6 separate regions of the Homo sapiens genome follow, and regions 1, 2, 3, 4 and 5 are each reported to be linked to region 6. The links are microRNA targets in miRTarBase. Many come from high-throughput screens and were not tested one by one. Region 6 holds a microRNA gene; each other region holds the end of a gene's coding sequence.
What was found. The annotated mature microRNA hsa-miR-5186 reads AGAGAUUGGUAGAAAUCAGGU and lies in region 6 at 1,373-1,393, opposite strand. An mRNA with a match to its seed (bases 2 to 7 or 8) in the 3' UTR can be bound and repressed. Matches are read on the target gene's strand: a 7mer-m8 pairs with bases 2 to 8, a 7mer-A1 pairs with bases 2 to 7 and ends in A, and an 8mer does both.

Region 1: the mRNA of NUDT19 is a reported target of hsa-miR-5186. Seed matches in the 3' UTR shown: 7mer-m8 at 1,089-1,095, 7mer-m8 at 1,246-1,252, 8mer at 2,014-2,021 and 7mer-m8 at 2,030-2,036.
Region 2: miRTarBase lists GALNT6 as a target of hsa-miR-5186. Seed matches in the 3' UTR shown: 7mer-A1 at 2,394-2,400.
Region 3: the mRNA of ZBTB18 is a reported target of hsa-miR-5186. Seed matches in the 3' UTR shown: 7mer-A1 at 414-420.
Region 4: miRTarBase lists S100A16 as a target of hsa-miR-5186. The part of its 3' UTR that is shown has no 7-base or 8-base seed match.
Region 5: miRTarBase lists CNNM2 as a target of hsa-miR-5186. The part of its 3' UTR that is shown has no 7-base or 8-base seed match.

The regions. Positions count from the first base shown.
Region 1 is chr19:32,711,210-32,715,261 of GRCh38, forward strand. NUDT19 (nudix hydrolase 19) reads left to right here. Exons shown (of 3, transcript NM_001105570.2): 3 at 543-2,583. The coding sequence ends at 748. Among named protein-coding and RNA genes, the nearest start is that of TDRD12, 6.5 kb to the right of the region's middle.
Region 2 is chr12:51,351,287-51,355,338 of GRCh38, reverse strand. GALNT6 (polypeptide N-acetylgalactosaminyltransferase 6) reads left to right here. Exons shown (of 12, transcript NM_007210.4): 12 at 847-4,052. The coding sequence ends at 960. Among named protein-coding and RNA genes, the nearest start is that of CELA1, 6.6 kb to the right of the region's middle.
Region 3 is chr1:244,055,105-244,059,144 of GRCh38, forward strand. It overlaps ZBTB18 (zinc finger and BTB domain containing 18), which reads left to right. Exons shown (of 2, transcript NM_205768.3): 2 at 1-2,372. The coding sequence ends at 266. Among named protein-coding and RNA genes, the nearest start is that of ZBTB18, 5.8 kb to the left of the region's middle.
Region 4 is chr1:153,604,336-153,608,387 of GRCh38, forward strand. S100A16 (S100 calcium binding protein A16) reads right to left here. Exons shown (of 3, transcript NM_080388.3): 2 at 3,664-3,842; 3 at 2,551-3,357. The coding sequence starts at 3,816. The coding sequence ends at 3,199. Among named protein-coding and RNA genes, the nearest start is that of S100A16, 6.8 kb to the right of the region's middle. RefSeq lists enhancers at 695-1,650, 3,993-4,052.
Region 5 is chr10:103,075,598-103,079,583 of GRCh38, reverse strand. CNNM2 (cyclin and CBS domain divalent metal cation transport mediator 2) reads right to left here. Exons shown (of 8, transcript NM_017649.5): 7 at 3,314-3,498; 8 at 1-2,613. The coding sequence ends at 2,404. Among named protein-coding and RNA genes, the nearest start is that of NT5C2, 120 kb to the left of the region's middle.
Region 6 is chr3:151,564,532-151,567,531 of GRCh38, forward strand. It overlaps MIR5186 (microRNA 5186), which reads right to left and starts at 1,464; the gene lies at 1,345-1,464. The region is part of intron 1 of LINC02066 (long intergenic non-protein coding RNA 2066); the gene reads left to right. It also overlaps a transcript of IGSF10 not described here.

The DNA of each region.
Region 1 (4,052 bases), not on the chromosome of region 6:
TCCCAGCACTTTGGGAGGCCGAGGTGGGTGAATCATTTGAGGTCAGGAGTTTGAGACCAGCCTGGTAAACATGGCGAAACCTGTCTCTACTAACAATACAAAAATTAACCAGGCGTGGTGGCAGACACCTGTGATCCCAGTTACTCGGGAGGCTGAGGCATGAGAATTGCTTGAGCCCAAGAGGTGGAGGTTGCAATGAGCCGAGATCGCGCCACTGCACTCTAGCCTGGGCAACAGAGTGAGACTCCATCTCAAAAAACAGATAAAAAAACACAATAAAGAAATTGAGGTAAGCTCATAGAATTAGATTAGTTAACAACTATCTCAGTTCCAAACATATTAAATAGATCAAAATAAATACTGATTTAACAACTATCTCAGTTCCAAACATATGAAATAGATAAAAATACTGATTTGTATTTCATTAGTATATTGGAGTGATTTATAAAATAATACTCGATGGAATTAAAATTTTATACTTTCTGCCATGGTGAAAAATAATTTTGTATTTAAAAATAAAATCAGATTTTTTCCTTTTTCAGGTGATGAGCTATATTTAGAAGATTCAGACTTTTTGGAAAATCTTATGTCTACTGAAAAAAAGACTGAGGAAATCATGAAGGAAGGCAAGCAGTTTCACCGGATAGTGACATACCATCGCCACCTTTATGATATCCACGTGACTGTTCAGCCAAAGTATAAACACGTTTATCCTAAGAACTCTGTAGTAAGAAAAAGCCATTTGTAGGGTGCTTAAGCTTGTTTGTAAAATGGCCTACTTGAAGTCCTCATGAATAATGAGGGTTGACTTTCATTTGCTTGAAACTTAAGGAAGTTTGTGCCTATAAAAGTTACTGCAATTCAGTATTTCTTTATTTTTTTCGAGACAGAGTCTCAATCTGTCGCCCAGGCTGGAGTGCAGTGGCATGATATAGGCTCACTGGAAGCTCTGCCTCAGGGGTTCATGCCATTCTCCTGCCTCAGCCTCCCGAGTAGCTGGGACTACAGGCGCCCGCCACCATGCCCAGCTAATTTTTTTTTGTATTTTTAGTAGAGACGGGTTTTCACCGTGTTAGCCAGGATGGTCTCAATCTCTTGACCTCGTGATACGCCCGCCTTGGCCTCCCAAAGTGCTGGGATTACAGGTGTGGGCCACCACACCCAGCCTTTTTTTTTTTTTTTTTTTTTTTTTTTGAGACAGAGTGTCTCACTCTTGCCCAGAACCCAGGCTGGAGTGCAGTGGCCCAATCTCGGCTCACTGCAACCTCCACCTCCCAGGTTCCAGCGATTCTCATGCCTCAGCCTCCTGAGTAGCTGGGACTATAGGCATGCACCACCATGCCCCACTAAATTTTGTATTTTTAGTAGAAACAGAGTTTCACCATGTTGGCCAGGCTGGTCTCGATCTCCTGACCTCATGATCTGCCCGCCTTGGCCTCCCAAAGTGTGGGATTACAGGCGTGAGCCACTGTGCCCAGCATGGTGTTTCTTATATCAGGTGTTTTAGGGAGCTCGCTTGCTTATTCCATTCTTTAATCCTTACAGTGTGCCACACGTATAAAGTTTATAACGTATTAATGATCTCATTACCCAAAACCAGAACATAATTTCACAAGGGTTCCTACTTCTGTATTGTTTTATTATCTCAAAAATTTAAATAACATGTTCTGCTGTTTATTGTTCTTGTTATCCACTGTATTAGCACCTTCCCTGATGTGCTTTGGAGGTTGATCAATGAATTTCTGAGACTTTCTGCTGGAATTACTTTAAGGGTGTCTTATTAGATGATGAAAAGTTGGCTGAGACACCCTTCAAGTGACCATGTCATTGTTTTCTTGCTATGTCTTTAGCTTAATGATTAAGATACAATTCTTTTTAAAATCAAATGGTATTAGTTATTATGTTTCCCAAATTAGAAATCGATTTTAGTTAACATTTTATTTTATTTTATTCTATTTTATTTATTTTTGAGACAGAGTCTCGCTCTGTTGCCCAGGCTGGAGTACAATGGCGCAATCTCAGCTCACTCCAATCTCCGCCTCCCAGGTTCAAGCGATTTTTCTGCCTCAGCCTCCCGAGTAGCTGGGATTACAGGCACCCACTACCATGCCCAGCTAATCTTTGTATTTTTAGTAGAGACGGGGTTTCACCATGTTGGCCAGTCCGGTCTCGAACTTCTGACCTGAGGTGATCTGCCCACCTTGGCCTCACAAAGTGCTGAGATTACAGGCTTGAGCCACCACGCCTGGCCTAGTTAGCATTTTAAAGAAACACAAAGCCATAACAAAAACCATCATTGTTTGTATTCCACACTGTTAATGAATGTAAAGAGGTTAGAAATGTAGTGTTTGATTAATGATGTTTATTTTTACTGTATTTAATATGAGTAATTTTTCATCATCTTTCAAGAGGAATAATGTTTATTGATTAAAGGTGAGAAATGATAGTTAAGACACCAATTCCATGTCCAGATCTTTGACTGTATCATGCATTGTACAATTGATTTCATATTTTATGAAATGCCTTAATTTTCCTACTATAACATAAAGACAATGATGAATAAAGTTTATGTGTATGATTAAATCCAGATTAGAGAACTATATCTAGCACAGCAGTCCTCAGCCTGGGCACTTTTGCCCTAGGGAACATTTGGCTATGTCTGGAAACATTTTTGGTTGTTGAAACTGTGGGCAGAGTGGGTGGGTGGGGGAGTATGCTACTACCATCTAGTAGTAGGGAGAGGCCAGGGATGCAACTGAACAGCCTGCAATGCGCAGTCTCACCCATAGCAAAGAATTACCTGACCAAGGATGAGACACCCAATCTAAAGTAAAATCTTTTTTTTTTTAAATAAATGGTTCCAATATGTAAATTTTGAGAACCACAGATACTATTATTCTGTCTGCCTTTTGAATCTACAAAAATGGGAAATTACGTCCAATTGGAAAAAAAAAAAAAGTTGGCTGGGCTGGGCGCAGTGGCTTATGCCTATAATCCCAGCATTTTGGGAGGCTGAGGTGGGCGGATCACCTGAGGTCAGGAGTTCAAGACCAGGCTGGTTAATGTGGTGAAACCCCATCTACTAACAATACACAAAAATTAGCCAGGCATGGTGGCCTGTAATTCCAGCTACTCAGGAGGCTGAGGCAGGAGAATCGCTTGAACCTGGAGGTGGAGGTTGCAGTGAGCCCAGATTGCACTCCAGCCTGGGTGACAAGAGGAAAACTGTCTCAAAAAAACAAAAACAAAAACAAAGTGTACAAAAATTTTTGTTGTCTTTTGATTTTTTTGAGATAGAGTCTCACTTTGCTGCCCAGGCTGGAGTGCAGTGGTGCAATCTCAGTTCACTGCAACCTTCACCTCCTGCGTTCAAGCAATTCTTGTGCCTCAGCCTCCCAAGTAGCTGTGACTATAGGCGCCCGCCACCACACCCAGCTAATGTTTATATTTTTAGTAGAGACAAAGTTTCACCATGTTGGCCAGGTTGGTCTTGAACTCCTGACCTCAGGTGATCTGCCCGCCTCAGCCTCCCAAGGTGCCCGGGATTATAGGCATGAGCCACCATGCCCAGCCTAGCTTTGTCTTTTGACTCTCAAAGATTACTAGAATGTTGCCGCTGGAAGGGACCTCATTGAACACCATGATTTTGCCAGTGAGAAAACCGAGACACGCAGCTGGTTAGTGCCACAGTCAACTCCCTCTTCACTGGAGTTGCCATGGCTCAGTGGGTGATATTAGAAGATGTCATGATAAAGTAATATGACCAGTTTTTCTTCATAGAAAAGATCGTTTTCACACCACGTTTCCCTCATGTATGCTTTTTTTTGTTTTTGTTTGTTTGTTTGTTTGTTTGTTTGTTTTGAGATGGAGTCTCACATTGTTGTCCAGGCTGGAGTGCAGTGGCGTGCTTTTGGCTCACTGCAACCTCTGCCTCCTGGGTTCAAGCAATTCTCCTGCCTCAGCCTCCCGAGTAGCTGGGATTACAGGCACGTGCCACTGCACCTGGCTAATGGTTGTATTTTTAGCAGAGACAGGGCTTCACCGTGTTGGCC
Region 2 (4,052 bases), not on the chromosome of region 6:
TAAAGGGTATTTGGTGATGACTGATGTAAAAATGGGGTGACAGGTTATGGTTCGTGGCTAGCTCTGCCATGGCTGAAGCATTTTTAGGCTGAACCCAATTAGAAGAAGGTGAAGAGTCATTCATAGTTCCTGCTTGTCCTCTGTGTCCTAGGCTCAAAGCTAGGCACTCACATGCCTGGGTCCAGTTAATCTTTCAGAGGCTCTTTCCAAGCAGGAATAGTCACTGTTTCTACAGATGAGCTGGAGCCGGAGGAAGCCCAGCATGTCTGTGACTGGCCCAAGACCCATCACTAGTAAATGGCAGGCCTGGGATTTAGCCCCAGATGGGTCTGACTTGAAAGCACGGGCTCTTTCCATTACACCACACTGCTCCAGGATATGCCATGTAACCGCCACCATGCTGAGCTCAAGCCAGCACCCCAAGTGAGCCTCCCTACTCCACCCCAGCTTAGGAAAGAGGAACCTAACCTGGAGGCTGCAGGGAAGGGAGCAGTCTAAACATAATCCAAGGCAGAAAATTGGAGGTGGAGCAGTGGCCCTGGGTCTTTGAGCCTGGCCATCTGGGGGTGCGGGAGGCCCTGAAAGCATTTTTCTCTCAGCCCATGGTCTTGTCTTTCACCATTTCATCCACTCAGTCTGAAGCTAGGGATGGGGATTTGGCACCAGATAGAGGTGGGAACTCAGGAATGTGTCTCATGAGAGGGCAGGAAAGGAATGGGGAAGTGTCCTCTTTGTGCCTTGTGGGGTTCCCTTGGCTTTTGTCAATTGCACCCCATCGCATTGTCCCTGGTAGCACCGTTAAGAGGTCTGTGGCCCAGACTGACCTTTTGCTTTGTCATCTTTTAGGATCAGCTCATCAGGAACTCAGGATCTGGTACCTGCCTGACATCCCAGGACAAAAAGCCAGCCATGGCCCCCTGCAATCCCAGTGACCCCCATCAGTTGTGGCTCTTTGTCTAGGACCCAGATCATCCCCAGAGAGAGCCCCCACAAGCTCCTCAGGAAACAGGATTGCTGATGTCTGGGAACCTGATCACCAGCTTCTCTGGAGGCCGTAAAGATGGATTTCTAAACCCACTGGGTGGCAAGGCAGGACCTTCCTAATCCTTGCAACAACATTGGGCCCATTTTCTTTCCTTCACACCGATGGAAGAGACCATTAGGACATATATTTAGCCTAGCGTTTTCCTGTTCTAGAAATAGAGGCTCCCAAAGTAGGGAAGGCAGCTGGGGGAGGGTTCAGGGCAGCAATGCTGAGTTCAAGAAAAGTACTTCAGGCTGGGCACAGTGGCTCATGCCTGAAATCCTAGCACTTTGGGAAGACAATGTGGGAGAATGGCTTGAGCCCAGGAGTTCAAGACCGGCCTGAGCAACATAGTGAGGATCCCATCTCTACGCCCACCCTCCCCCCGGCAAAAAAAAAAAGCTGGGTATGGTGGCTTATGCCTGTAGTCGCAGCTACTCAGAAGGCTGAGGTGGGAGGATTGCTTGTTCCCCGGAGGTTGAAGCTACAGTGAGCCTTGATTGTGTCACTGCACTCCAGCCTGGGCAACAGGTAAGACTCTGTCTCAAAAAAAAACAAAAAAGAAGAAGAAAAGTACTTCTACAGCCATGTCCTATTCCTTGATCATCCAAAGCACCTGCAGAGTCCAGTGAAATGATATATTCTGGCTGGGCACAGTGGCTCACACCTGTAATCCTAGCACTTTGGGAGGCCAAGGCAGGTGGATCACCTGAGGTCAGAAGTTTGAAACCAGCCTGGACTACATGGTGAAACTCCATCTCTACTAAAAGTACAAAAATTAGCTGGGCATGATGGCACGCACCTGCAGTCCCAGCTACTTGGGAGGCTGAGGCAGGAGAATCACTCGAACCCAGGAGGCAGAGGTTGCAGTGAGCCAAGACAGCACCATTGCACCCCAGCCTGAGCAACAAGAGCGAAACTCCATCTCAGGAAAAAAAAAAAAAAAAAAAGTATATTCTAACAGACAGATCAGAGGTCTAAGAGATCCTCCCTTGCTATTATTACCTGAAGTCTGTAGAACTGTTTACAGATATCTCCTTGACAGGTGTCCTTTATCTTACTTTATCTGTACAGTAATCCTGTGAGAAAGACAGGACAGAAACCACTGTGCCTATTTTACAGATACGAAAACTGAGACACAGGTAAAGGGGCTTGTCTGTAGTCCCATAGCTAGCAGATGGCTGGAGCCAAGACTGAGGCTCGTTCTTCAATGCTGAGCCAGGGCTCCTTCCGCTGCACCACAAGAACGCTAGACCACTCGCCACCAGCCTTCTCATTCCCTCTTCCTCCATTCTAATCATTTCTAGCTGGCTGGCCTCCACAGAGCATAGGAAAACAGCCAGGGCCGGGCACGGTGGCTCATGCCTGTAATCTCAACACTCTGGGAGGCCGAGCCGGGTGGATAACCTGAGGTCAGGAATTCGAGACCAGCCTGGCCAACATGGTAAAACCCCATCTCTACTAAAAATATAAAAATTAGCCAGGCATGGTGGCGCACACCTGTAATCCCAGCTACTCAAGAGGCTGAGGCAGGAGAATTGCTTAAATCTGGGAGGCGGAAGTTGCAGTGAGCCAAGATCGCGCCACTGAACTCCAGCCTAGGCAACAAGAGCAAAACTCCATCTCCAAAAAAAAGAAAGGAAAAACAGGGCCAGGTAGCCATTGTGGAGAGAGCACACTTAGGAATCCTGGGATGTTAGTGTTAAAAGAAAGCTCCTGGAGCCAGTGATTCTCAGGTTTGTCCCAGAACCCTTTTTTCTAAGCCCCATATAAAAGGTAGATTAAAAAAACAAAGTAGCATGAGTGAAATTGAGAGAGGGACAGGTAATGCCTTCCAGCCCCTAACTTCTAACAATCTGGAAGCACAACGTGAAAATCACGTAGCCCAACCCTATCATTTTCATATTATGAAACTGAGTCCAGGTAAGTGAATCTGTCCAAGGTCACCCAGCAAGGTATCAGTAGCCCTGAGGGTAAGGACTCTGATAAGGCTCGGGAGGGTCCTGGAAAGCCTGAGGCGGCAGGAAGAGTGTGCAGAGTTGAGCGTGTCTGGAAGGCTGATCCACTGCTGGGCCCACATCAAAGCCCCCATGGGGAGCAGACCCGACTGCACATGGCTCTTTTGCTGGAAGAAGAGCATGGCTGCGCAGAGGACTAAAATTTCATCTGGGAAGGCTTCTTTTGACTGTCAGTAGCAGGATGTCACCAGATGAGGGTGCTATGGGACCACAGCTGTCTTTGTTCCCATTGCAACTCAACCCTGCGGGAGGCCGCCTACATCCCTGAGAGCCTTCTGGAGCCTACAGAGGAGACATTGGCCAGCCAAAAGGAAAGGAGTGGCCAGGGTACGACCTGGAGTAGGGAAGGGAAAAAGTTCCCGGAAAGAAGAGAATTGGATGAGAGGTCTCAGTGGAAATAAAGGTTTTCTGGCATTGGTCAAGGAAACTCGCGTTGTGTTCTCTTACCTGTGTTGTCCCTTAGCTGAATCAGTTGATTTGGGCTATGAAGAACCACACACATCTGAAAAGTTCTGTTACAGCCACTGTCTCATGTCCCCAAACATTCTCTGGCCCTAAATCTAGCTTATGTATTGTGTCAAGCACGTGGAGACGTGAGACGTCAAACGAGGTCCTGTCCCCGTGGAACTCACACGCTAAATGTAAGCAAATCATAGCAAGCCTGGAGATGCTCCAAGAGGTGCTGGATGAGTTAGAAGGAGCAATTCCTTCCACTTAGGGAATCAGATAAGGCCTCACAAAGATGGCAATGTTTGACCTAAGACCTCGGAAGATGAGTCCTCAGATGGGAAGGGCTCAATAAGCAGAGTTGTTACACAGGCAGCAGCCTGGCAGGAGCAAAGCCACAGAGGACATGTGGCCCCAGTGGGTCTGAGAAACCCAGAGGACATTGGGGTGAGGGAGTGACTGGTGTAGAAGCTGGAAGATCAGAGTTACATCATGAATTTCAGGGGCCCTAGGCACTTTAGCCTTCACGGAGCTCTTGCTCCATTCAAAAAAAAATTAATGTT
Region 3 (4,040 bases), not on the chromosome of region 6:
AGAAGCCCTACACATGCACCCAGTGCGGCAAGAGCTTCCAGTACTCGCACAACCTGAGCCGCCATGCCGTGGTGCACACCCGCGAGAAGCCGCACGCCTGCAAGTGGTGCGAGCGCAGGTTCACGCAGTCCGGGGACCTGTACAGACACATTCGCAAGTTCCACTGTGAGTTGGTGAACTCCTTGTCGGTCAAAAGCGAAGCACTGAGCTTGCCTACTGTCAGAGACTGGACCTTAGAAGATAGCTCTCAAGAACTTTGGAAATAATTTTATATATATATAAATAATATATATATATATACATATATATAAATAGATCTCTATATAGTTGTGGTACGGTCTAAAAGCAGTCTTGTTTCCTGGAAATAAAAAGTTGGGATATTAACTTGTTTTTGCACTTTAGAATAGCATGAGAATCTCACTAATTTAGCATTCTGATAAAAGAAACTTTAGAGCAAGTCAGAATAGAGAGGTGTTTTTCCTTTGAGGGGATAGGGGAAGTAAGCCAATAAGAACCTTTTAAACAAATCGTCCTGTCACAAAATGCTTTCATATGGCTTAATTTTGTCAACACTGCATTGTCTTTTGAGCTCTTTTTTCCCCCCCAACAAAGTTTTTTTGTTTTTTGTTTTTTTTTTTAAGTAGAAATTCCCTCCAGTTTTATTAGCCTCTTTATATGTCTCAAATTGCATGAATTTTTTCTGGCTGTTGGAAACCTGAATGCTTTTAGACCCAAATGGAAAATTTCTGAAATGCTGGATTATCTATTTTTAAACAAGCAGTTGACTTAAAACTTTCTGTGGCAACTTCTGGTTTTCTGACAGTTCCCAGTGAGAGAAATGCTGAAAGTACACTGGGATCACTGGGACACTGTCTTATGAAGGTTTGCTTGGGATGAAAAAGGATATTGCAGCTTCAGCAGTGTTGAACTGTGTGTTTAAAAATGTGAATTACTGTTATTGTATACTGTAATTGATTACATGGGCTGGGGGGGTGTCAAAGAACTTGACAGGTTGTGTTGATGCTCTTAGTTGAGTCTTGAAAAGTAAATATTAACGCTACAGAAATGCATGAGTTTCAATATATTTTTTGTCTTTGTTTGCATTGTATAACTTTAACGAGTGAGTTTAAAATTATTTAATTTCCTTAGAAAAATAACACCATTTGGAAAAAAAAACTGGTGTTATGAAGAACGTAAATGCACTGTTTTTATTTTTATTTTATATAATTTAAATTGACTTTCCCACTGTCTTTAAGTTGAAACTGTTAAGCTGAATAAAAACTTAAGCTGCAAATTGATAACTTCGCTACATAACAAGGAAAATATAAATGTTTACAAACAGCTTAAAGATTTGCATGTGCAGTGTGCATTTATAACAAACTTCTAATTGCACAAAACCCATGCCAGCTCAGAGTTTAGGTGTACACATTTACCCAGTTGAGCGTTCTTAGAATAACTACTGCACAAGTTGACAATAGGTCGTTCTCTCTTTTTTTTTGTTTGCTCCCTTTTTCTTTTTCTCCCCTTCCTCCTTACCCTCCCTCCCTTACTCTCCCCCCCCACCACCACCCTCCACCCCCAACTCATGAAAAGATTCTATGGACTGAAAAAGCCCCAGGCTGAAAGGACTGGACTGCCTTGATTGACATGGGGAAGGGGGTTAGTAGACTATGTGGATTGCGGCAGCAGAGGCTGCAGCCTAACGTGTGGTTTTAATGACCAGCACGCAAGGCAAAAGCATTTTGCACAGTGTTTGTTTTCCTGTCTTGCACTTACAAATAAGGTCTATGGGAGTAGCATGGAAAACGTTTGCTGTTTTTCCCTTTTTTTTTTAATTGCTTTTGTTTAAAATTTGATCGCCTTAACTACTGTAAACATAGCCTATTTTTGTGCTTAAGATACTGAATGGAAAACTCCATTGTGTGTTGCTGGACTGTTTTGGAAATATTTGGTTAAATGTGTGTTAATTTGGCTGTAATGGCATTTAAAGCAAACAAACAAACAAAAAAAGCTGTGAAAATGGCCTTGGAGCATTATCTTTAGTTACTTGAAGAGTTTCTAGTTTTTTTAAAATACAGTTTATGTTAAAATAATTTTTATTAATTTAGAGAAGACAATCAATGTCTGTGAGAAAACGGACTTTCTTTTGGATTTTCTTTTTGTGGTCATTGTGAGTGATTGCTTTTTCCTTTTCTTAGTTTCACATTCTTCCTTTGTTCTAAAACTTAGACTGACATCTAGCTTTGACAATCATAGTATGTTTTATTTTCCTGAGGGGGAATAACTTATAATGCTGTTTAGTTTTGTACTATTGGTGTGTTGGTGAATTTTTAAACTGTGTGCTAACTGCAATAAATTATATGAACTGAGAATTTCTTGTGTGTATTTTTTATTGTGATTATGTAGTGTATAGATTCTAAATATGTATCATACCTGGCATCTTTAATATCAATTCTATTCGGAGTTTATGAAATTATTAGAATGCCTTAAATCACTCGAGTGGAAAATGTGTAAGCATTCTAGTCACTTAAGAAGATACTAAATGCACATTTAAAAAATGCGACCCATTTTCACAATCTACATCAAGAATGTTGAGGTAATTCCCTAGAAACTCATGAATCATGAAACTACGTGGCAGCATAGGTTGTTAAAAATACACTGTACAACTACTAATCCATATACCGTAAGTCACTTTTCGTGTGTAATTTTATCCTAAGTTGATCGGTCAAATCTATTCTCCTGTGTTCTGGTTTAAGTGGAAAATTGAAGGAGACCGGATGTTTTAATTTGGAAGACTGCTTGGCTAATGACTGGAATTCTAGGCAATTGAATTAGCAGGCATGCAATTGTTCACGATTAGCTATATACATCCTTTTTGTTGCTGGGAGAACTCGAAAGTTTCTAGGTTTTAATTCTCAAGTTTTAATTTAAACATGTAATTAAATACATGGACCATTAAAAGAACTCTGTTCCCTACTTTTTATGATTGTCCCAACTTCATGCTTATCTAGTTGGGTACATGTCAGGGTGAGAAACATTGCTGGTTGACCTGGGTAGGGAATTGACAGAACACTCACACATGCGGATGATACTGTAGAGGAATTGTCACAAACAACCCTAAGCTCAAGCAGTCAGGTGCAGGCATGGAGAGGTTTTGTAAACCGTGCTTGTCTCTAACTTCCAACCTTAAATAGAAATATGACTATGAAATTTTACATTATTACTGTCAAACTATGTTTATATTCAGTGGCCTATAGTAAGGTCAATATTTTTAACCTACAGAAGTGGGATATAAGGTCTGAAGTTTGAAAATGGACCATTTACCAACTACCTGGTGGCTTTGGATAGGAAGCCACAGGGATTTTGTCATGAAGTATAATAACATAATTTGGAATCCTAATTTCCATCCCCCTGCCTTTTTTTTTTTTTTTCTAAAACAATTTTTAAAGTATGTAACTCATCCTTGGTTTTAACCAGCCAAATACTGTTTCACATGAAAGGGGAATGTACATTTGACCCCCATAGAATAATTTCTTGAGCAGTTACAAGCTTACAAAAAGGGGAGGGAGGGGGACTTTTTATTTTCAGTTCCTATAGTAACTGGTCAGAGTATCTCAAAGCTTCCTGAAGATGCTGAGCGTTTACTTGAATTTAGTTCTGTGGACTAACATCTAATTTTAAGTAAGGAACATTATCTTAACAATCTTAACTGGATATACTTATAAAAATAATATTTTGACATGATTTGGAAGAAGTAACTTCTTAAAACATTCTTTGCAAAACTAGAACAGAATATTAATTACACAAACTGCCACATTTGGTAAGTGAAATGAAGGAATCATTTATTTGCCACATTTAAAAAAGGAAATTAATTTGTCATGTGATCATGTTGGAAACCATTAAAACTGATCCCTCCTTTGACATCTGGCTGATACATAGTATATTTTAAATATGTAGTTTTATTTACTTTAGAAAACTTCTTTTTCCTTTAGATAATCAATTATGCACTGGATTGATGTGGGTTCAGCATTGTGTGCTAG
Region 4 (4,052 bases), not on the chromosome of region 6:
ACAGAGTTTCATCAAAGCCAATCAAAAGGCCTGTGTACAAATAACCATTCTTGCTGCACTTTATGCAAATAATCAGGGCAAGTATAAGACTACAGTTTATTCATAACTTGTTTTTACCAAGAACGAGGACTAGAGAGAAAAATTGTGCTCCAAAGCTTATCATACATTTTTTTGTTTTTTGTTTTTGTTTTCAAGCTTTTCGCCTACATTTTAGACTAACCCTGCTTATTCCTGTGAATCAAGCAGTGATCTCCTGCAGCTTGGAAGAAAAATTAAGGGATGGGTAATATAAAATCTGAATCAATATATTAGTTCTGGGCAATTATTCTGCAAATTCTACCAGGTAATAAAAGTGAGTAGGGTGCCCATAACCCAGAGGTTTCTTCGTTTAGGAAAATAAAACCAAGGAACTTCATAGACCCCCAAAGGGGAATTCTATATCTTGACAGGTAAAAGTTTAGATGGAAATTATCTACCACACCACACTTATGGAAATAGCTATACTCACTCTATTATTTGCAATAGGATTATACATGGTAGCACCTTCTAACTGAAATATTAAACAGAGAGTTTCCATTGCTGTCATATTTTGCTTAATCATTATCCTTATAGCAGGGATAATAGCTACTAATGAAAAGGAAGCATAAAAGTTTTACTACCACTGAATCTGCTAGGACTTTTTATTGGGTTTAGTGATGCAGTTTTCAATGAAACATGCTGCTTTCGGATTAATGCCTCTAGTTAAAAGAAAATCTACAAGTACTTAAAAATCAAATCAAAATTATTGATCCCCGAGTGGCTACAATGCCTCTTTAATAAATTCCAGTCTTCTTTATGGAATTGGTTAACCCCTTTATTAAGCCCTCTCTTGCTTATGTGTCTTGTATTGATATTTGGACCCTGTATACACAATACTATAACTCAAATTGTTTCTTCTCATCTAGAAGCAATCAAACTCCAAATGGTGCTGTAAACAGAACCACACATAGACACATCATTCTTCTGAGGACCCTTAGATTGACCCCAGGAGGAGCCCTAGCTGCTCTTCCCCATTCGACGCCCTTTTGCAACAAGAAGTAGCCAGAAGGAGTCGTCGCCCAAAACTCCCTAACAGCAGTTAGTGTGGCATCTCCACAGGGGGGAATGTTGTAGGAGTTATTAAGAAATTATTTTAGGCAGATAGAGAGGAAAATGGGTCCTTGGGTCCTTGGGAAGTTTTTTGTTTTGTTTCTTTTTCTTTTTTTTTGAGACGGAGTTTTGCTCTTGTCGCCCAGGCTGGAGTGCAATGGTGCGATCTTGGCTCACCACAACCTCCGCCTCCTGGGTTCAAGCGATTCTCTGGCCTCAGCCTCCCGAGTAGCTGGGATTACAGGCATGCGCCACCACGCCCGGCTAATTTTGTATTTTTAGTAGAGACGGGGTTTCTACATGTTGGTCAGGCTGGAGTTTTCATTTTTTTGAAGCATCTCCAGAAAAGTTTCTTGTAAAGCCCCGGCTCTTAGAGCCAGGTTGGCAACCTTTGATATGCAAATGCAAGCCCTTAGAAACTGGGTCCACCCAAACATGGTGATTCCCCCGGCCTTCTTGCCCTTTCCCCACATGTTCCTGGCAATGTGGCTGCCCTCACATATCCCCAGGTGTGTAGACCTGCATTTGCATATTAAAAGGCTAGGGTGGGGCAAGGTGCGGTGGCTCACGCCTGTAATCCCAACACTTTGGGAGGCCGAGGCGGGCGGATCACCTGAGGTCAGGAGTTCCAGACCAGCCTGACCAACATGGAGAAATCCCGTCTCTACTAAAAATACAACAAAAATAGCGGGGTATTGTGGCACATACCTGTATTCTCAACTACTCGGGAGGCTGAGGCAGGAGAATTGCTTGTACCCGGGAGGCGGAGCTTGCGGTGAGCCGAGATTGCACGCCATTGCACTCCAGCCTGGGCAACAAGAGTGAAACTCCATCTCAAAAAAAAAAAAAAAAAAAAAAAAGGCTAGGGTGTGAGGGCCAGCTTTTTCCGAGGGCTACGTGAATGACACGCATAGTCAAACCAATCCCCTGAGCCCTATACAAATCAGACTCCTCCTCCTCCAGCCTCTGTATATATACCTAGATGGTATCTGTGGCAGGTGGGGTTCCCTCTCTCAGCTTTGGGGCCTCCGTCCCTCTGTCTCTGTACAGGGGAGCTTCTTCCTTCTCCCTTCCGTCTTGCCCCTTCTTGCCTATTAAACTCTCCGCTCCAAAAAAAAAAAAAAAAAAAGACTAAGGGTCATGGTCCCTCTCTCGTGGAATTGCAGTGAGGACTAAACGGGACTTACAGTGTGCCTGGAAGTTGAATTTGAGTCTGAGTCTGGGCTAAAAGGGCCCAGAGATGGTGACCTAAGGCCTTTGGCCCTTTATGGAGGAGGATGGAGGGAGCTGCTGGCCCACAGCTGACAGTGCCTGTTGGAATTTAGGAGTTCTGGCTCCTTTCTTGCTCTGCCTTTGAGGTTCTTCTGTGAGATTCTCTCTTATCACAGGGCCCAAGGGCTAAGACCACCAAAGCATAAAACGTTTCCAAGGAGTGGGAAGGTTTTAATGAGCATCCCAGAGGGACCAGGGGATACAAACTCCAAATCCAGCCTTTATATCATCATTATTTCAAGCAACAGGAGGAGGCTCAGCCTTGCTTAGCTCATTCCCAGATGAAGAGGCAGCTGGAGGGAAGTCCCTGAAAGTGCCTCTCTACCCAGCAGAGGGGCTAAGGGAAAGTGGAGAGGTCTCTGCTGCTGCTGCTGCTGCTGCTGCTGCTGTTGCTGCTACCACTGCCACCAAGAGCAGGGAGACCTCAAGCACCAAGCTGACCTTTGGAGGTCAGGACGGACCCAGAATCAGGCAGGAATTTGGCAGGAACATCAGACATTGGAAGGTTAGATGAGACTGAACAGGTGAGAAAACTCTTAGGGTCCCCAGACAGCATTGAGATCTCACAGAGGGGCCCCAAGGGCCTGCGACTCCAGGAGCTGAGACCCCCCAGGGAGGGAGGTACCTCTAGACTGAGACACTCACAAAGGGACCCCAGTTCAGCAAGGGTCAGAGGAAGGTCTGGAGGGAGAAGAGAGTAAAGGGCCCTGGGTGGGCAGGAGGCTGAGGAGGGAGCCTGGGGAGAGCACCAGGGCGGGGCATCAGGCCAGTGCCTGGAAGGTGTGGCCAAAGGGGTCTCTAGCTGCTGCTCTGCTGCTCCTGCTCATGGATGAGTTTGGCGATGGGGCCGGTGATGCCGCCTATCAAGGTCCAGTACTCATCGAAGCTGATGCGCCCATCATGATTGGCATCCAGGTTCTGGATGAGCTTATCCGCAGCCTTCCGGTTCCCTGTGTCCTGGGGAGGAAGCAGGGTCAGCAATGCTGATGGTGGAAGCCCCAGAGAGACTCCAGGCAGGACCCTAGGCAGAGACCCAGGATCTGGCCTGCACAGCTGCTTCCCTTGGGAAATGCAAATATAGCCCTCACTGGCTAGGCCTAAGCATCCTGAGAAGACAGAGGCCTGGGGGTGTAGAAGACCCTGGAGTTAGCGGGGACACTGGAAGGATAGAGGCCTCAGCAGGGAAAGACACCCTCAGAGGCCAGAGGCTTGCAGGGGAGGGAAGGGGAGAGGGAGGCAAGGCCCTTGGGTGAGAGGCCTTACCGACAGCATGTGGTTCAGCTCTTTCTGGAGCATCTCGCGGAAGCTGCTCTTGCTGATCTTGTTCTTGACCAGGCTGTACTTAGACACATATTTGTAGAAGTTTTCCACCAGGACAATGACTGCCTTCTCCAGCTCCGTGTAGCAGTCTGACATCTCCCTGCTTCGCCTGCTGGCGGGGCCTGGACACCAGGAGGAGGGGAGATGAGAAGAGACACCCACAGGCCATACCTCCTCCTCCTCCACACCCACCCTAGGCCCTGGGTCCCTCCTCCTGCCTTGTTTCTGGTCCCTGGAGAAGAAGGTGGCAGGAAAAGGGGAACAGAGTGGGTGGGGGAGAGTGAGCCCTGGAATGAGAACTATGCGGCTCCTCTAATCCAGGTGCTCCCCAG
Region 5 (3,986 bases), not on the chromosome of region 6:
TGCTTCTCCCTGAAGTCAGAGGCAGCAGCTGGCATCCCCTCTCCTCTCCCCAGACTCAGTTCTTTAGGATTTATAAAGGAACAGCAGAGCTCTGAAAAGGGCACCAACACACTAGCTCTGATTCCAGAGGCTCTCCCAGTAGCAAGGCATCCCCGAGAGACTGTGTGTGGAGAAGCAGACGTGAGCCCAGATAGGTTGACAGGGCAGAGTTCCTGAGGCCAGAGAAGCTGGGCTAGGCAGGCTTGGCTCCCCACAGCTCAGGGAAGGCCAGCACTGCGCAGACCCGAAGAGGGGGATAGATGCCCTCTTCCAGCATGGGCTACGCTTTGCTTTGTTGCAAGGACCCCTCATCTTTATACACTCATCACACTGGTGTTGTGCTCAGTGAGAGGCATCTTAAGAAACTGACTTTTGTATCTAGATGGCTCTGTTTAAAAAAAAGGATGCTTAGAGTGGGGTCCCCTCTAAGGTCAAGCTACGCGGTGGGGCTTCATCCCACGGGGGCAGGTTGCGTGCCAGTAGCAGGCCACTCAGCACCCTCGGGGGGTCCCTGTGACCCTCTACACCAAGTGAGATCAGTACTTCCCCCCACTAAGGGACACGGCACCTTCTGAGGAAGACACTCCAGGACTGGCATCCCAGAGGAAATACTGAGCCGGGCATGCACAACACCCGAGGCACCAAACTGCTCACCAGGCAGCCAGCCCGGCCCGCTGCTGTCTGCTCCTCAGCCACGCTCCCTGCCCCGCACACAGCCCAGCCGTGGCTGAACAGACTTCCTACCTGGAGTAGGGAGAAGAAAACTGCCACTTAGCCAAGGCCTCCCTTTGCGCAGTGAGCCTAAACAGAAAACGCTCTCTCCTTTCCTAGTGATGGATGCGGCGGGCACTGATAATCTTGTGTGTACACTGGTCAGTATGATTTCATTTCAGTGCATGAATAGCGCCAACAACCTGCACATATCCCTCGGGCTAACAAAACACAGATAAGCTATAGTTAAGAATTCAGTCACTCATATACCTCCTGACATAATTTCACTACATGATGAATTTGGTATTAAAATAAGACGGAGACACACATAAAATGGCCACAACACACATTTGGTTTCTGAATCCCTGTTTGGGGCCAAACTGACCCTGGCTGTACAGGCAGCCTCTCTGGCACAGGCCGCATCTGAGGCAGGAGGCACAGAGCCCTCAGGCAGGGGACACAGCCACTGCCGGGCCCCATGGGCCCAGGGACAGGGGAGGAGGGACAGTTGGCTCCCTGGGAGGAGGAGCAGGGGCTGGCAATCCCCAAAGTTCCCTCCTTTAAAAACACGGGTCTAGAAATGCCTTCTCGGCACACAGTACAGAGTGCAGCTAGAAGGTCCGACTCGTTTTCTGTTAAAGTATGTTCTAGTGGGAAGGGGAGGAGCTTGCACTCCACATCACGTGTTTACTGAAAAAGCCCTGTGGAAGATTTCCATTTGGCATCTGTGTAGCAGCATCTTGGGTTAACAAGAGCAAGGACCAGGGAGGTGGGCGACGACACTCTGTGAGCTTAGGCGCTGGGTCGGGGAGGAGGGCTGGCTGGCAGACCCCAGGCTGGAATGACAGGATGAAGTCAACTTGCCTCTTGCCAATGATAAACCATGGGTTTTAAATTCATTAACATTCATTTTGGTGATAAAAATTCCTTAGGGTGGGAGCAAAATCACATTCCCAAGCAAATGTTAAATCTTCCTGAGGGAAAGGGGTACAGTTAAACATTAAATTCTCAAAATACCACTGAGCTCAGAGAGGTGATTGCAGGTCCCTCTGAGGCAGGCTACACCCCACAGTGATGACAGACTTGGCAGGTTCTGCAGTAACACGGTCTTCTTCATTCAGCCAGCGAGATCGACGGTGATGCCCACTGGGGCACAGAGGAAGGGTGCCCCTCGCTGGGAGGGCCAAGGAAGGCTACCGGAGGGGCAAGTCCAGCCCATCAGGGTCACATCATGGGATCACAGCAGAGTTCAGACAGAACAACTTAAAACTCTGCAAAAGACACTTTAAAAACATGATCTCTTGAAAAAATAAATCGCAACAATTTTCAACTTCATGCAAATCGAGGGCAGAGGAGTGTGAATAATGATAAAAGGGAGAGCTGAAAAAATAAACATGATTCTATTTGGGCGGAATCAGTTCATCTCCAAAATCTTGAACGCCATGCCCCGGCTGCCAACTTCACATCTCTCGTTTCCATTCCTCCCTCACTGTCCTCCTCCGCGGCTCCTGGGAAGGGCACAAGGTCTTTGGTCTCAGGATGTTGCAGGGTACAGCATGGCGGACAAGCTCACACCAGTGAAGTCATGGGCAGACAGGGCCGGGCCCTCGGGACTGGGCGGGTGCGGGCCTGGGCGGGTGCAGCCAGCGCGGCCTAGATGGCGCCTTCGTTGTGCAGGCTGTGGTTGGCCTTACTGTGCGTCACACAGTTCTGTTCGTTGAGCAGGTTGGCTGTCTCGTCTGGCAACCCGTCATGCAGCTCCGTAAGAGTCAATTCGATTTTAGTGTTTTCACTGTCTGAAGACTGGGGGGTTTTGTCCATCCGGGATGCCATCAAGGCATTTTGGTATTGCTGTCTTGAGATCTGGGGCCAGAAGATGGCACAGAAAACAAACCAAGATAATGCTTATTTTTAGGTTCTCTGATCTCCACACGTTCAATCCCGACAGGCCCACAGCAGCCTCTCTAGGAGAAAATCACACTTGAGCGCAGTGAGCCACTTTGTCAAGTTCAAGTTGACTTTGGTGAACAAGTCAGTTCTTACTGATGTAACCCACTTCCAAATATTGTCTCAAAATTTTAGGGACTAGAAAATAGAGACTGGTTTCTCCCAGCTAAAGCTGGCTTGTTCTCCAAAAGTCATCTTTATTTCAGACCAAGATGAGTACTCTGACTGCCCGGCAGAAGACAGAGGTGGAGCCTTCCCCGCAACCCTCCAAGTCTCCTGACCTCAGCCTTCCCAGGGCCAGGCAGGGAGCCACGCACCCAGGAGCTCTTTGAAAAGGGGCTACTCTTTTTTCCAGGATCTCTGGCTCCCATTCCCTGAAAGAGCCACATTTGATTTGGCAGCTCATTGGATAGAACCAAGAAGATCAACGTTTTTCTCAACCTGAGGCTTGGGCACAGCAGACGAAGACAGGGTGTGTAGTTGAGAATGGAAGGCAGGGCACCCACAAAGTGACAAAGGGAGAGTTCTGAGGAGGGCAAGGAGCAAAACAGACAATTTGCCAGGGAAGTTGACAACTAACTGCCAGGTCCAGCCACACTGCACTCACGTCTCTCACCTTAACAAACTGCAGATCCGAAAGGGCTCGCACCGAGTAATCGGGGATGTAGACTTGGAGGAGCGAAGAATTGAGCTGGTTATTGCTGCTCCCCAGTGTTGGTGTGACGGCGTCAATCCGGTCGCTTCGACTGAGAGAGTCTGAGTGATTCAAGCCACATGGGCGAGGAGGGGACTTATTTTCACCTGGAAAAGGAGGGAAAAATCCAACTGTTTAAGTGAAGTAGATACAGCCAATAAAACCAGTTATTTTCCAAAATAAAAAATACTAAATGCCACACAAGCCCAGCCAACTGATTCCAGATGTCTCGGCCGCACAGTATGCCAGAGGGTATCCTATGTATGGCGGACTCGCGGGCTTCCCTGTACCAGCAGGCTATGTCCATCTCAGCTGCTTGGCCCTGTGTATGTGACAGACACAATCCTCCCAAGTCTCTAACAGCAAAAACCCTGCACTGTGTGCCTTCGTGAGGAACATTCCCGGGTACTGTGAGATGCTCAGGCGAGGTTGGGCCAAGGCCCAACATGCAGAAGCTGCTTGATATCAAAGGTAGGCTACGCAGAGGACAGCACTTCATTACTTTGCCCGAAGTAAAAACAAGGGACTCTTGAGAATATTAATAAATCAGTATGTATTATAAAGGGATCAAAATACTCATCTGCTCATACCATAC
Region 6 (3,000 bases):
AGACAGAAGGAAGCATTGGGTTTGCATTCAGGCATGGAAATATTAGGCTGGACTGAGAAGTGGCTGACCTTTTAGATGAAGTTTGTGTTCCCCAGTTGGCCATAGTTTTTACCAGTTTGCTTTGCTTGATATCTGCATGCATTTGGGTTACGGCAGTTGAATGAGGTATGCATGTCCTTAGAGGCCAAGAAACAATTTACTTACTGACTGAGCTTTAGCATGAGAGAGCATAATGACATGTGAGTTACCGGTGAATCAATTACAAGAGGTACCCAAAGGTAAGCGTGCAGTTGAAAGTTTCATATACAAGTGGTTGTAAATAAATAGCCTATAACTAAAAAGTAAGAATCATGGTAATGGTTAAATGTTCATTGAATACATACTAAGCACAAGATTTCTTATAGGTATCAGTCCCTTTAACTCTTGTAACAAGCCTAGGAAGTAGAAAACTGAGACAGAGGCAAGCTAAGTAACTTGTGCAAGATCACCAGCTAATAAACAGCGCAGTTAGGACTTCAGTCAGGCAATCTGGTTCTGGAATCTGTGGCTTATATTATGCTATACTTTCTCTCTAAAAACTCTGAAAGAACTCTCTAGTACTGGCAGAGAATGGGATTTACTGGTTAATTCATATGATGGTTTGACAATTGCTGTGTGAATTATCAATTGTTAGGAGGTAAGACCAGTTGAGAACTTTAAGCAGTACTTCACTGGGGTTTGGCAAATTGGTAGAGAGACCTTGAATCTAGAATCTAGTGCTTGACTTTATAGGCCCAGAAACCATATTTCACCCATTTGTAAAAATCATAATATAAAATCACCAGTATGTTTGTAACCCAGAAGTACAAAAAGTGAATAAGGAATTTGAGATGCCATTATATACAGAGGTGAGTGGTAAGGTCTGGTTTACTGGCATCCTGGGAGCTCCTGGCCAGAGCAGAAGGTGAACATTGTCAAAATTGAAACAAGGGATCAAGAAAGCCAGGCCTGCCTCCAGGTTGAGGTAAATAGTTCAAATTATGAAGTTCAAGCAGCTACAGAATGATCTGTTCCAGGGGTTCAAAACTTTTTTGTGCATCAGACTCACCTGGGGGAAGTTATAAAAACAAACAAACATAGAAATGTTCTGCTTTATATTTTTAGACCTACTAAAGCACCTACCCTGGAGTTCTAGTGAGTTACTGAGCTAATTCTGTTGCTTCTGGCCCACTGATTGGTATTTGAGAAACACTGTTCTAGTTGGAATTTGCCTTTTGAGAACGTTAATGCATAGTATCAGATAGATACGAGAGTGATAGATTAAGATGATAGCTATGATTCCTGTATTAATTAATGCATGAAAGTGTTAGCCAGCTTATGGCATGACCCTCTCACCTGATTTCTACCAATCTCTCCCCAGAAAGAAATCAGCTGAGGAAAGGTTGGTAGAAATCAGGTGAGAGGGTCAAGTCATAAGCTGGCTGAGTTGGGGAGTAGGCAGGGGTCCAGTCCTGGGAGAATCAGTGCAGAAAGCAACTGAGGCAGTGCCAATGTTTAATGAGAGGCTTATAAAATTGCCACAAAGTGAGGCCCTAGCTACATGTCATGAGAACTCCCTGGCAGAGGGGAGAAAGCAAATTTGGATTAGAATGGGAGGTATCAGCTAGAAAATCAGAAATCTGACCAAATAATGATAAACATGATAGTTTATGAATTAGGAAGCAGGGAAGTGAAACCCTACCCCACAAATGATAGATTAGGAAAGATTTGAGATGAATAGTAGAAAAGATAGTGCATAAGGTCTCCTCTGCTCTCCCCAGAACTGAGGGATGATTAAAGTTAATAGCATTTGTTGGGTTCTACTTAATAAGTACAACTTTTTGGATTTATTAAACCAGTTGGCATTGGTTGTGTTATGCTATAACAAACTCCAAATCTCAGTGGCTAACAAGGAAGTTGACTTCTTGTTCTTCTGACAACCCATGTGTTGTCCCTGCTTTGGGTCCCAGGCTGATAGAATAGTCGCTATCAGGAGGATGCTACCATGGCAGGGACAAAGAGAGCTCAGAGGAAATCATGCCAAGAGATAAACATTCAACAGGAAAGTGGCATACATTGTTTGTGCTTTCAGTTCATTGGCCAGAATAGTTACATGGCCTCCACCAACCACTGGGAGCCATAGAGTGCTATGTGCCGGAGGGCAGAGAGCTGGGAATATTTAGTGAGCAGCATTCGGTACTACCATCTTTCCCTCTGAATAGGTTAACAGCCACAAGTCCTGTCACAATTTTTAGCAATTTCTTCAATGTCAAGAAGAATTATATTTCTTAGCTAACAGAGGTGGTGTAGTTTCAGGGTGCCTGCCTGGCCTATCTACAGCACTGTCAGCTCCATGCTCACCCTTGCTGAAGAGATGAGTCTCTCTGTTCAAGTTCGTCTAATGTCATAGCCTTTTCCCTGATTGGACCAGGGACCAACACCTATCCAGGTGGCTGTCAATCTGTTGGCTAGCCTGTAGGCAAATGTATTTTCTGAGACACAGAGTCTCTAGTCAAATGGATGTGGGCCTATGAAGTAAATGGGTCTGTAGACTTGGGCCCTGGGCATTTTGATCCTGTCTGTGGACAGTAGCCAATGATCATAGATGAGGAAGATTATATGCAGTTGAGACAAAGAGAGAGAAACTTCTATCTTCAGTGGTTCCCTGGATCTCAGCTCCTATTCCTGGGAGATTCACCTCTGCTTCATTTTTTGTGAAATGGCTTTATGGCCTTATAATAAATATTCATTTTATTTGAGCCACTTTATTATCCATATGAATAAATTGAGAAGCCTAGTCACTCTGCCTCTGCTGAGAGTATCATCTGTAAACCAGGACTGTAGAAATTCTGGGACTCGTGCTAGGGTGTATAGTTGGGAACTAACAAGAAAAACTTTCACTGTAAACCTACTTGAACTTTATTTTCTTATTTTCTGTATTCCTGATGCTCTGGCATCTTGGGCCTCACAGATCTGGAGGGA